3 linked regions of the Homo sapiens genome follow. The protein of the gene in region 1 interacts with the protein of each later gene in a pairwise test. Each region holds a gene or a part of one and is shown on either strand. Other genes may lie near its edges. The genes, in order: BEX2, KRT27 and TRIM74.

What was found.
Region 2: the proteins of BEX2 (region 1) and KRT27 interact in binary tests that used the Homo sapiens proteins (3 or more experiments, as listed by UniProt).
Region 3: the proteins of BEX2 (region 1) and TRIM74 interact in binary tests that used the Homo sapiens proteins (3 or more experiments, as listed by UniProt).

What each region holds. Positions count from the first base shown.
Region 1 is NC_000023.11:103,308,891-103,312,490, reverse strand, and holds BEX2 (protein BEX2), read left to right. Parts: upstream 1-1,500; 5' UTR 1,501-1,631; exon of another isoform or gene 1,632-1,893; coding exon of another isoform or gene 1,894-1,908; intron 1,909-2,057; coding exon of another isoform or gene 2,058-2,133; intron 2,134-2,509; coding exon of another isoform or gene 2,510-2,514; coding exon 2,515-2,901; 3' UTR 2,902-3,145; downstream 3,146-3,600. UniProt on the Homo sapiens protein: Regulator of mitochondrial apoptosis and G1 cell cycle in breast cancer.
Region 2 is NC_000017.11:40,780,400-40,784,226, reverse strand, and holds the start of KRT27 (keratin, type I cytoskeletal 27), read left to right. Parts: upstream 1-1,676; 5' UTR 1,677-1,733; coding exon 1,734-2,177; intron 2,178-2,956; coding exon 2,957-3,039; intron 3,040-3,770; coding exon 3,771-3,827.
Region 3 is NC_000007.14:72,967,246-72,971,072, reverse strand, and holds the start of TRIM74 (tripartite motif-containing protein 74), read left to right. Parts: upstream 1-1,606; 5' UTR 1,607-1,788; intron 1,789-3,827.

The sequences.
Region 1 (3,600 bases):
GAAGTTCTTTATATATGCTCTGAATTCAAAACCATTGTCAGATACAAATACTGTGAATATTTACTCCCAGCTTCTCACTTCATTTTCTTAACCATGTGTTTTAAATGGTAGAAGTTTTTAATTTGGATAAATCCAATTTCTTATTTTTTTCTTTTGTGATCTGTTCTTTTTGTGTCCTAAGGAATTGTTTTCTCAAAGATTGTAAAGTTTTTCTGTATGTTTTATTCTAGAAGTTTTCTAATTTGAGCTTTTACATTTAGGCCTAGGATCCATTTTGAATTAATTTGTGTATAGTATAAATAAAAGGCAAGGCTCCTTTTTTTCCTTTAAGAATTCTGTTATTTCAGCACCATTAGTTTAAAAGACTATACTTTCCATATAGAATTACTTTGATATCTTTGTCAAAAACTAATTAACAACATACGTATGGGTCTATTTCTGGAGTCTATTCTGTTCTATTGATCTACAGGTCTATGTTTACTACTACACTAACTTTATTATTACACCTTAAGTCTTGAAATAATATAATGTAACTCTCAAGATTTGTAGGATATTTTAAAAAAATTATTTGTCTATTCTAGGTCCTTTGCATTTTCAAATAAATTTATGAGTACGTTTGTAATATTTATCTTGTAGCTGCAACCTTCTTAAAATCAATTCTTACTCCTATAGTAGGTTTACCGTAGATGTCTCTGGATTTCCTAAATACATGATTACTTGATCTTTAAATAAAGACATACTTATCGTTTGAACCAGAAATTTGTGAAAAAGGCCTTTTTTTTCCTTTTAGTTATGAAAACCCAACAAGGTTCTGTAGCACTACAACTCACTAGCTCATTTCATAGAAGGGCCTCATGTGTCCAGGGGCCCCTCAAAAGGGGAGCCATCAGCTGCCCTGTCCTTTTCCAAGTTCTAAAAAAGCAGCTGCGTGTAGAGTCTATATTTATATAATGACTTAACAGGACAGGTGGTTGGGACATTTTGCCCAACTTTAATCCCGTCTTTCAAGTAAAAATAACTTTTTTTCCTTTTTAAAGAAGTATATTAATTTTTTGTGTTTTACAAAAGAAATAATACAGAAAAGGTATTAAGAATGAGAAAAGCCTACTCTCTTGTGCTCCTTTCCTGATACACCTCTTCCACTCATTTTAGTGGAGAGAAAACGGAGAATATTGGTAGGAGGACAGAAGGAGGTAGACAGGCAGAAGGAGGTGAATCCTGGGAGCCAAGGGCAGAGAGAGGCAAGTCCCCAGAGAAGTGGGAATGGCCAACAGCTCCCTGAGAAGATACCTTCCGTCCTTCCTGGGCAAGCAGGGGAAGTCTCAAGAATATACAGAGAAGGAAGAGTGGCAGAGCCCAGGCTGGGGATGTTAAAAGGGACTCCCGGTGAGGATGGGGGCGGGCCCGAAAGCACCACCTGACTCCGGGCTGCAGGAGGGGGCGTGGGACGGGGGCGGAGCCTCTGGCGATGACAACAGCCACACGTGATCGGCCAACACTGAGTCTTACCTCGTTGTGGCGTCAGAACCGCCGTCGCTCGCTCCCTTCTCGGCAGTGGTACCTGTTCCCGGTGTCCCTGAGGACGTGCGGGCCAGGTACGGCCCCGAAAGTAGGAAGCGGAGGGGGAGCAGGTAAGGGACCCGGAGGGGGTCCCTGGGGTTGGTGTGGGGGAGCAGCCCCGGCCTGCGGATGCCCCATCCCCGGGCAGCAGCGCGGAGACGCAGCCGGTCCACGATGCAGCCCCGGGGCCCCGCCGCGGGACCGCGAGCCTTGTGTGAGCGGAGGGGTGCCCGGCCCCGCGGGAGCCGGCGATCCTGAGGCTACGACCTTTCGGAAGCACCTGCCTCCGTCACCAGCGCAAGCTTTTCCAACACCCCTGCTCCGCCCTTCTTGATGCAGAAAATGGTGGTCAGCTTGGGGGGCTGGGCGGCTGAGGCGGGGGGCGAGAGCGGCTAGGAGGGCCCGGGCCCGGCGTGGGGAAGGGGCCGGGTGGCGGCGGGTCCTCTCTAGCGTTCCGCTGCAGCAGCCCCCACTCTTCCCACCCCGGCCGTCTGCAGGTTTGCGGGGCCAAGTGTTGCGGCGACGCACCTCACGTCGAGAATCGGGAGGAGGAGACTGCAAGGATAGGCCCAGGTCAGTGCGAGGGACGGTGGTGGGGAGGGGGTCAGAACATGAGGAAAGCCCAGTCTGAGACCCCAATCCGTGCCTTCACCCCCACACTTAGCAATCCCCCACCCCCACCCCTTCTTCGTCCTCCATTTTGGTGCCTGCAGAGGCCTGGAGATGGATCTGCAGAGAAGATGGTGGGCTTTGCGGGAGAGAAGGGCACAGACTGGCTCCCCTCGCCCCCCCGAGGGTACATGGGGCCTCTCTGGTGGAAAAAAAATGAAATTTAAAAAAGGCCTTTGAAATCCAGGGCTCTGAATTTTGAAAGGTGGGTAGTCGGGCCTCTGTCCTCGGTGCTGATCAGTTCACCAAGAATTGAGTCCATTTTCTCTCTGTCTCCTAGGAGTAATGGAGTCCAAAGAGGAACGAGCGTTAAACAATCTCATCGTGGAAAATGTCAACCAGGAAAATGATGAAAAAGATGAAAAGGAGCAAGTTGCTAATAAAGGGGAGCCCTTGGCCCTACCTTTGAATGTTAGTGAATACTGTGTGCCTAGAGGAAACCGTAGGCGGTTCCGCGTTAGGCAGCCCATCCTGCAGTATAGATGGGACATAATGCATAGGCTTGGAGAGCCACAGGCAAGGATGAGAGAGGAGAATATGGAAAGGATTGGGGAGGAGGTGAGACAGCTGATGGAAAAGCTGAGGGAAAAGCAGTTGAGTCATAGTTTGCGGGCAGTCAGCACTGATCCCCCTCACCATGACCATCACGATGAGTTTTGCCTTATGCCCTGAATCCTGATGGTTTCCCTGAAGTTAATAGGGAGACCCCTGCTTCCTAAACTTACACATTTGTGGTGTACCTTTGTCGTAAACGTTTTGATGTTACCTATTTCTTGTGGGTCTCCTATTACCAGCTTCTAAATGAATGTTGTTTTTGACCCAGTTTGTAAGTTTCTGTCAGCAGGAGAGTTTTACCTATTGCATGGAAAGATGCTCATTATATATTGTGAAGTTAATAAAACAGTTTTAAAAAGCATTCTCTGCATTCTTTTTTACTTTAAATCTTAAACATGCACCTAAACAGTCATATATATATATATATATATATATATATATATATATATATATACACACACACACATATATATAGTAAATAGTGTTTATCTCTGTGGTAGAATTAAGAGGGAGTTTATTCTTGCTTACCCATAATTTCTTATTTTTCAAAATGGAACACGTATTACTGATAAAAAGCAATGTGACCACCTTATAAAAGCGATGTGAGCACTTACTAAACACTTGTGACAGAATCTCAATTTTAGCTTGCCTCTGGGTTCTCTTTTTAGAAATGTAAGAGACACATCTCTTTGAAGATAATAATATTTATCAGTAAGATGAAGACAATCACCTCCCAGGCTTGTTGTATGGACCAGATAAGGTAATGAGGTTGTGAGCTTTCTCCCAAGTTCTTGTTCTTACTGACATGCATGACCC
Region 2 (3,827 bases), on another chromosome or scaffold:
GGGTACACATATATAACAGCATAAACTACAAACAGCAAAGAAATAATGTTTTGGTGTCCTAATTTTATGTAAAACAATAAACCATAATACTTTAATAATGTATTAAATTGATTGACAAATCTTTCTGGCTTTTTTTCCGCAAGCTCATTTATTAAGTCATGAAAATTTATATTTTTGCCAACTTCATTTTCAATCTAGGTAATTGAAAGTGATGTCAATCATTCTTGGCAAATGCAAGATCTCAAATGATTTGTTATAATTTTTAGTCTGAAGAAGAAAACCAGGTGGAAAGAATAACATGAACAAAGGCAAAGAGATGGGAAAGAGGGAAGTAGTAAAACAGAACGGACAAGTCAGTGCGGGAAAATTTACATTAAGACAGTGAGGTGGCTCCTGCCTATAATCCCAGCACTTTGGGAGGCCAAGGTGGGAGGATCTGTCGAGCCCAGGCATTCAAGACCAGCCTGGACAACATGGCAAACCCCAACTCTACAAAAAAATACACAGATTAGCCAGGCATAGTGGCGTGTGCCTGTAGTCCCAGATATTTGGTAGGCTGAGGTGGGAGGATCACTTGAGCCTGGGAGGTTGAGGCTGCAGTGAGCTGTGATCATGTCACTGCACTCTGGCCTGGGTGACAAAACGAGACCCTGTCAAAAAAAAAAAAAAAAGAGAGAGAGTCGTAAATACCAAGCACAAAACTATAAGAAATGACAAAGGTAGGGCACAGGAGCTATAAGTGGAAGAGAAAAGGGGAGCAACATGAGATGTAGAAAATTTCTTAGAAAGCAACTGTCTGAAACTCGATCAGACTCATCAGACTGAGGTTGTCAGTATTGAATGTAACCAAGAGGGTATAGGGGAAAAAATAAAAGAAATGATGATTAGAGATGTGCAGTGATGTCTGAGAGGTTAATTTCAGTAAAATAGTGGGACCACAATTCAGAAATAAGAGGTGAAAAGTACAAGAAGCAATGCAGAAAAGTGCTATGGAAATGGACAGCCAATAGAAGGAATGCAGAAATATGAGCAATCTACAGACAGAAAGTGAATATAGAGACCACAGTCTAGACCCTTCACTTTACAGATGTGGAAACTGAGGCCCGAGGAGGTGACCAATTCCTTTACTTAACCTGGTTAGCAATGGAACTTAGACAGAAAACCAGTACAGATGAAATGGTAATTCAGGAAGGATAAGGATCAAAGGAACACTTTCTGTCTCCAAAGAAGATTCCCTTTAATGCCTCAGTTTTCCTTTAGGACCTCCCCTCCTTCTTCTGATACTATGATACTTCATTGCTGAAGAAAATGCAATGCTGATTTGAGCAAGGGAAAGAGAAATCTGTCTATCATACTTTTTTATTCTTATAGGTATTATGCATTCCTGAAGCCTGGAAGACAGGAAGAGTTACTCATACTAAATTTGAAATGCATCACTATAATAATCCTGATAATACTCCACCCTGTCCAACTCCAGAGATAACAAATAACCCCACAATAACTATCCACCTACAGAAATGGACACAGTATGGTAAAGCCATTCATTAAAAAAAAAAAAAAATCACCCCATTATGGATAATTCACAATGAGCTGGCAAACATCATTTGGCTATGAGCAAAGCTCATCAAGAAACACCCTAATAATGTGTATATAAAGGCAAACCAAGCTGTTTGAGTAGGCCGTTCACCATCAGAGCATCACCGCAGAAACAAAGGCTCCAGCCTCCGGACACCATGTCTGTGCGCTTTTCTTCTACCTCCAGGAGACTTGGCTCTTGCGGGGGCACTGGCTCTGTGAGGCTCTCTAGTGGGGGAGCAGGCTTTGGGGCTGGAAACACATGCGGTGTGCCAGGCATTGGAAGTGGCTTCTCTTGTGCTTTTGGGGGCAGCTCATCTGCAGGAGGCTATGGCGGAGGTCTGGGCGGGGGAAGTGCTTCCTGTGCTGCCTTCACAGGGAATGAGCACGGCCTCCTCTCTGGCAATGAGAAGGTGACCATGCAGAACCTCAACGACCGCTTGGCCTCCTACCTGGAGAATGTTCGAGCCCTAGAGGAGGCCAACGCTGACTTGGAGCAGAAGATCAAGGGGTGGTATGAGAAATTTGGACCTGGTTCTTGCCGTGGCCTTGATCATGATTACAGCAGATATTTCCCAATTATTGACGAACTTAAGAACCAGGTAAGAAACGCCATGGCGTGAGTGTTAGCACTCCTGAGAGTGTTTAGCCACTCACAGATGCACAAATGTATAAGCTATCACAATAACAGGGCTTTGCCCTCAGCTTCTAAATTTTAGGAGTTCATTTTCAATATTAAAAATAATTTCTAATAAATTCTAATATTTGAACATGGCACGTCCATCATGTAGTATTAGGTATATGCTTTTGGTAATATTAAAATATCAAAAGCTGTCCAGTGTCTCCAGTTATATATTTATAGGCTTTCCCATAGAAAGAGCTTTTTTTAATGCTTGGGGTGGGAAATACAAGAGACCATACCCAGCCAGGCACAGTGGTTCAGCCTGTAATCCCAGCACTTTGGGAGGCCAAGGCAGGTGGATCACTTGAGATTAGGGGTTCAAGACCAGCCTGGCCAACATGGTGAAACCCTGTTTCTACTAAAACTACAAAAGTTAGCCGAGCGTGGTGGCACATGCCTGTAATCCCAGCTACTTGGGAGGCTGAGGCAGGAGAATCACTTGAATCTGGGAGGTGGAGGTTGCAGTGAGCCAAGATCGTGCCACTGCACTCCAGCCTGGGCAACAGAGCGAGACTCGGTCTCAAAATAAAAGACAGAGAGAGAGACCATACTTAAATTACCCATCTTCAAAAGAATGGTCTGATTATTAGAGACAGATGCCAGAAATATTACTATAATTTCATGGGTAATTTTATTTCAAGGAACTTTGAAATGCATCTTAAATATTTCCTCAATCTTAACTAACTTTTCATTTGTCAGATAATTTCTGCAACTACCAGTAATGCCCATGTTGTCCTGCAAAATGATAATGCAAGACTAACAGCTGATGACTTCAGACTAAAGTAAGTAGAGCTGAAGATAAATGGGAAAAAAAAGTTGTCTAAGCATTTTTTCTCCTTTATTCTTCTAAGTTATTTGACGTTGTCTCAAGCCTTTGTTCTTGTTTATTCATGTATTTGTTTTAAACAAAATGCCTGTTAGAATGAGTAACTAGCTGAGCAACAAATTTTACTTGGGAAATTTCGGGACTAACAAAAACGAGTGTCAAAGTCATATGAGAAAGAATTTTGGCTATTCCCATTCTCTTGCTTCAATGAAATGTATTTATTGCATGATAGATGACCTAACTGAAATGTGTTTTTTTAATTAATTAATTTATTTATTTATTTATTTATTTTTTGGAGACGGAGTCTCGCTCTGTCGCCCAGGCTGGAGTGCAGTGGCGCAATCTCGGCTCACTGCAAGCTCCGCCTCCTAGGTTCACGCCATTCTCCCGCCTCAGCCTCCCGAGTAGCTGGGACTACAGGCGCCCACCACTGCGCCCGGCTAATTTTTTGTATTTTTTAATAGAGACGGGGTTTCACCGTGATCTCGATCTCCTGACCTCGTGATCCGCCCGCCTCTGCCTCCCAAAGTGCTGGGATTACAGGCGTGAGCCACCGCGCCCGGCCTGAAGTTTTAAGTATTATCTTAGTAGTTTTACCTCAAAGCTTAGTCTGAGTTGTATGATGATCTAAAAAGTGATGTGCCATGTCTAATGACTAATGATGAAACTTCCAAATACTTTTCTAAGGTTTGAAAACGAGCTAGCGCTTCACCAGAGCGTGGAGGCGGACATCAATGGTTTGCG
Region 3 (3,827 bases), on another chromosome or scaffold:
TAAATGAACAAAGAAACATTCCCAGTGGTGAGTTAAGTCAGAGTGCAAAGATTATACCTTGCCCATTAAGCCATCTCCCAAATGCCTAGGTCTCAAGGGGAGAGAACATGGCTGTTTTACCAAAACCCAGCCTCAGCAAAGTCAATTCAAAGAACCTGCGCTCTGAGCAGTCTTCCCAGCCTGAGGCATGGTGCCTCATCTCGCTCCTAAACAATCCCTTCTTCTCCAGCTCCTACTCTGAATTTACCCTCTCCAAGTTTCATTAGCCGAGGAGTTTTCCTAAAGTAATTAGAATCGAAGGGTCTGTCCAAGTGTTCCAGGTATCCATACTATTTCACTAGAATAGAGGAAAGAATGTAAGGAAAATGGACCCAAAACACCCACGCCTCCATAATATCGAGTCTCTCATGATCACACAGAAACAATGCGATCAGATGAGCTTAAGCTGCCCGACACCACGAGGTACAGGAATAAATCTCTCTGCATTTTAGGAGCCTGCCCTTCGGCTCAGAGGTTCAAGAGCTTCATGGAAGCATCACGCAAAGGGGACATAGGGGTCCTTAGCTTTCCTCTTAAAAAAACTAATTCATGGCAGAAGCAGCGGCTCACGCTTGTAATCCCAGCTACTGGGGAGGCTGAGGTGGGAGGATCACTTGGGACCAGGAGTCTGAGACCAGCCTGGGCAACATAGAAAGTGCCCCATCTCTACAAAAATATTAAAAATTAGCCGGGCATGGTGGATTGCGCCTGTAAATCTCTTATTTGGGAGGCTGAGGCTGGAGAATCACTTGAGCCCAGGAAGCAGAGGCTGCAGTGAGCTATGTTCGCACCACTGCACTCCAGCCTGGGGAACTGAGCGAGACCCCGTTTCAAAAACAAAAATCCACTTCAAACAAAGCATTTCCAACCCCATTAAATGCTTTTTGAAAATGAGGCCTCTCTCTTCCCAACAGAGTGCGATGACATGGATCCTGCGGACAAACCGCCCCAGGGCGTACCTAGCACCGAAGCATCAGGCGCCACTAGGTCTCCAGCTCCTTCTCGGATGACGTCCTTCAGCACGCCCCGGTCCCCCGAGATGTCCAGCATCCTCTGACTTAACCGCTCGTACAGGGACTGATGGAGAATGAAAGCCAGGCCTCAGAGCCGCAGACCCACCCGGCCACCCCTCAGCGTCTACGCCCCCACGTCTGGGCCCTCACCTGGCCGGGGGCGTCGTCCCCTTCCAGGACTCCCTGGTTTAACGCGCTTCCCCCCATGTCCTAGCTGCCCTCCCTGTGGCGTGAGCCTTCGGCCTGGTGCGCCCCGCTGCCCTTCCTGGCTGTGACTCTGGTGGGGTTCCGAAGGCCCCTTTATGCCCGGCAGACCCCTACCGACGGCGGCATTCCATTCTGGGGCCACGAGGAGGCACTCATCGTTTCGTTCCAACCGCCGCCAACGGCCCTGGCCCTCGCGAGCTCTGGAACTACAGAGGTCGCACGGTGAGTTGCCAGGTGTGGCCCGTAATCGGAGCGCACAAAACATGATGGGACACGTAACGGGACCACACAGGGCACATTGGGCACTTGCAGGGGCGCGAGGTGGCGGCACGTAATGGGAGCGCGCTGAGCATGATGGGGCATGTGCGGGAGCGCCAGGCGGGGCATGTAACCAGAGCGTGCGGGGCATGATGGGGCACGGACATGGGGGGTTAGGTGGGGCACGTAATTGGAGCTCGCGGGGCAGGATGGGGCATCTAACTGGAGCGACAGAGAGCACGATGGGGCACTTACAGGGGCCGGAGGCTGGGTACGTAATGAGAGCGAGCGGGAAATGATGGGGCACCTAACGAGCACGCAGAGCATGATGGGGCACGGGTGCGAGGTGGGGCGCACAGTGGGAGCGCGTGGGGCATGATGGGACACATGGCGAGGCCGTCAGGGCACAGGGGAAGCACTTTTGGAACACGTGAGTGACAGGGCTGCCGCCCTTGAAGGAGCCCTCGGAGTGGCTGCGTGGTGGGGCACGTGGGGCAGGTTCAGGAAAAAGGATGCAGCATGTGATTGCAGGGCAACCTGGTGAGGACACGAGAGCCACCTGCCACCAGCAGGGTTCAGGGCTCCCAGCTGTGGGTTACTTCCACCTTCTTTCACTTTCCCTCTTCCATTGTATTCTAGAGAATTTAGGCCCAGACAAGACACTGATTGATTGATTGATTGATCGATTGACAGAGGCTCGCTCTGAGCCCAGGCTGGAGTTCAGTGATGGATCTCAGCTCACTGCAGCCGCCACCTCCTGGGCTCAAGAGATCCTCCTGCCTCGGCCTCCCAAGTAGCTGGGATTACAGACGTGCACCACCAGGCCCAGCTAATTTATTTTTTAGTTTTTAATTTGCTGGTAAGATGGTTTGTAGCTTTGTTGCCTAGGCTGGTCTTGAACTCCTGGCTTCAAGCGATCCTCCAGTCTTGACCTCCCAAAGTGCTGGGATTATAGGCGTAGGCTACAGCCAACTTTCAATACTGCCCCATTGGGGGTTACGTTTCCAACACATGAAATTAGGAGGATACATTCAAACCACAGCAGTATATTATGACCATAATATTCATTAACTGTGTAACAGGCTGGGCGCGGTGGCTCACACCTGTAATCCCAGCACTTTGGGAGACCAGAGTGGGTAGATCACTCGAGGTCAGGAGTTTGAGACCAGCCTGGCCCACATGATGAAACCGCCTCTCTACTAAAAATACAAAAAATTAGCCGGTGTGGTGGCAGGCGCCTGTAACCTCAGCTACTTGGGAGGCTGAGGCAGGAGAATCACTTGAATCCGGGAGGTGGAGGTGGCAGTGAGCCTGATTGCACCACTGCACTCCAGCCTGGGCAACAAGAGCAAAACTCTGTCTCAATAAACAAACAAACAAACAAAACCTGTATAACAGAGTGTCATTGAATTTCTAAACGTTGAAAGACTTCACATTAAAAAAAAACTCACAATTTAATATTATTGAGTGAAAGAAACCAGACACAAAAGGGTACATTCTATATGATGCTGTTTATGTGACATTCAAAAACAGGCCACATGACAACATGGTAATAAGGACAGTGGCTGTCCTTGTTAGGAGTTATGACTGGAAGGAGGCAGGAGGGAGCTTTCTGGAAACACTGTACATCTTGCTCTTGAGAGTGCACGTATATACATCAAGTGTTTATCAAGCTGTGTGGTTAAGATTTGCACACTTGTATATGTTATACCTCGATTTAAAAAATCTAAATAAGTAAATAAAGATACCTTCAAATCTTTAAAAAAAAAAAAAAAAAGAGGCCAGGTTCGGCGGCTCACACCTGTAATCCCAGCACTTTGGGAGGCTGAGGTAGGAGGATTGCTTGAGGCCAGGAGTTCAAAACCAGCCCAGGCAACAAAGTGAGACCCCTGTCTCTACTAAAGTAAATAAAACAATAAAATAAAAAAAAAAATTCGAGAGATCGAACCATCATCTGCCAGTTTGTATTAGAAAAAAAGAGAGAGAGAAGGAAGACTGCGTGCAATAAGGCTCATGCCTGTAATCCCAGCACTTTGGGAGGCCAAGGTGGGAGGATTGCTTGAGCCCAGAAGTTGAAGACCAGCCTGGGCAACAAAGCAAGACCCGGTATCTACAAAAAAAATTTTAAAAATTAGCTTGGCATGGTGGCACGTGCCTGTAGTCCCAGCTACTCAGGCAGCTAAGGTAGGAGGATGGCTTGAGCCTAGGAGTTGGAGGCTGCAGTGAGCTGTGACCACGCCACTGCACTCCAGCCTGGGCAACAGAGCAAGACACTGTCTTCCCCTGCCCCCCAGCCCCCCACCCCCCCCA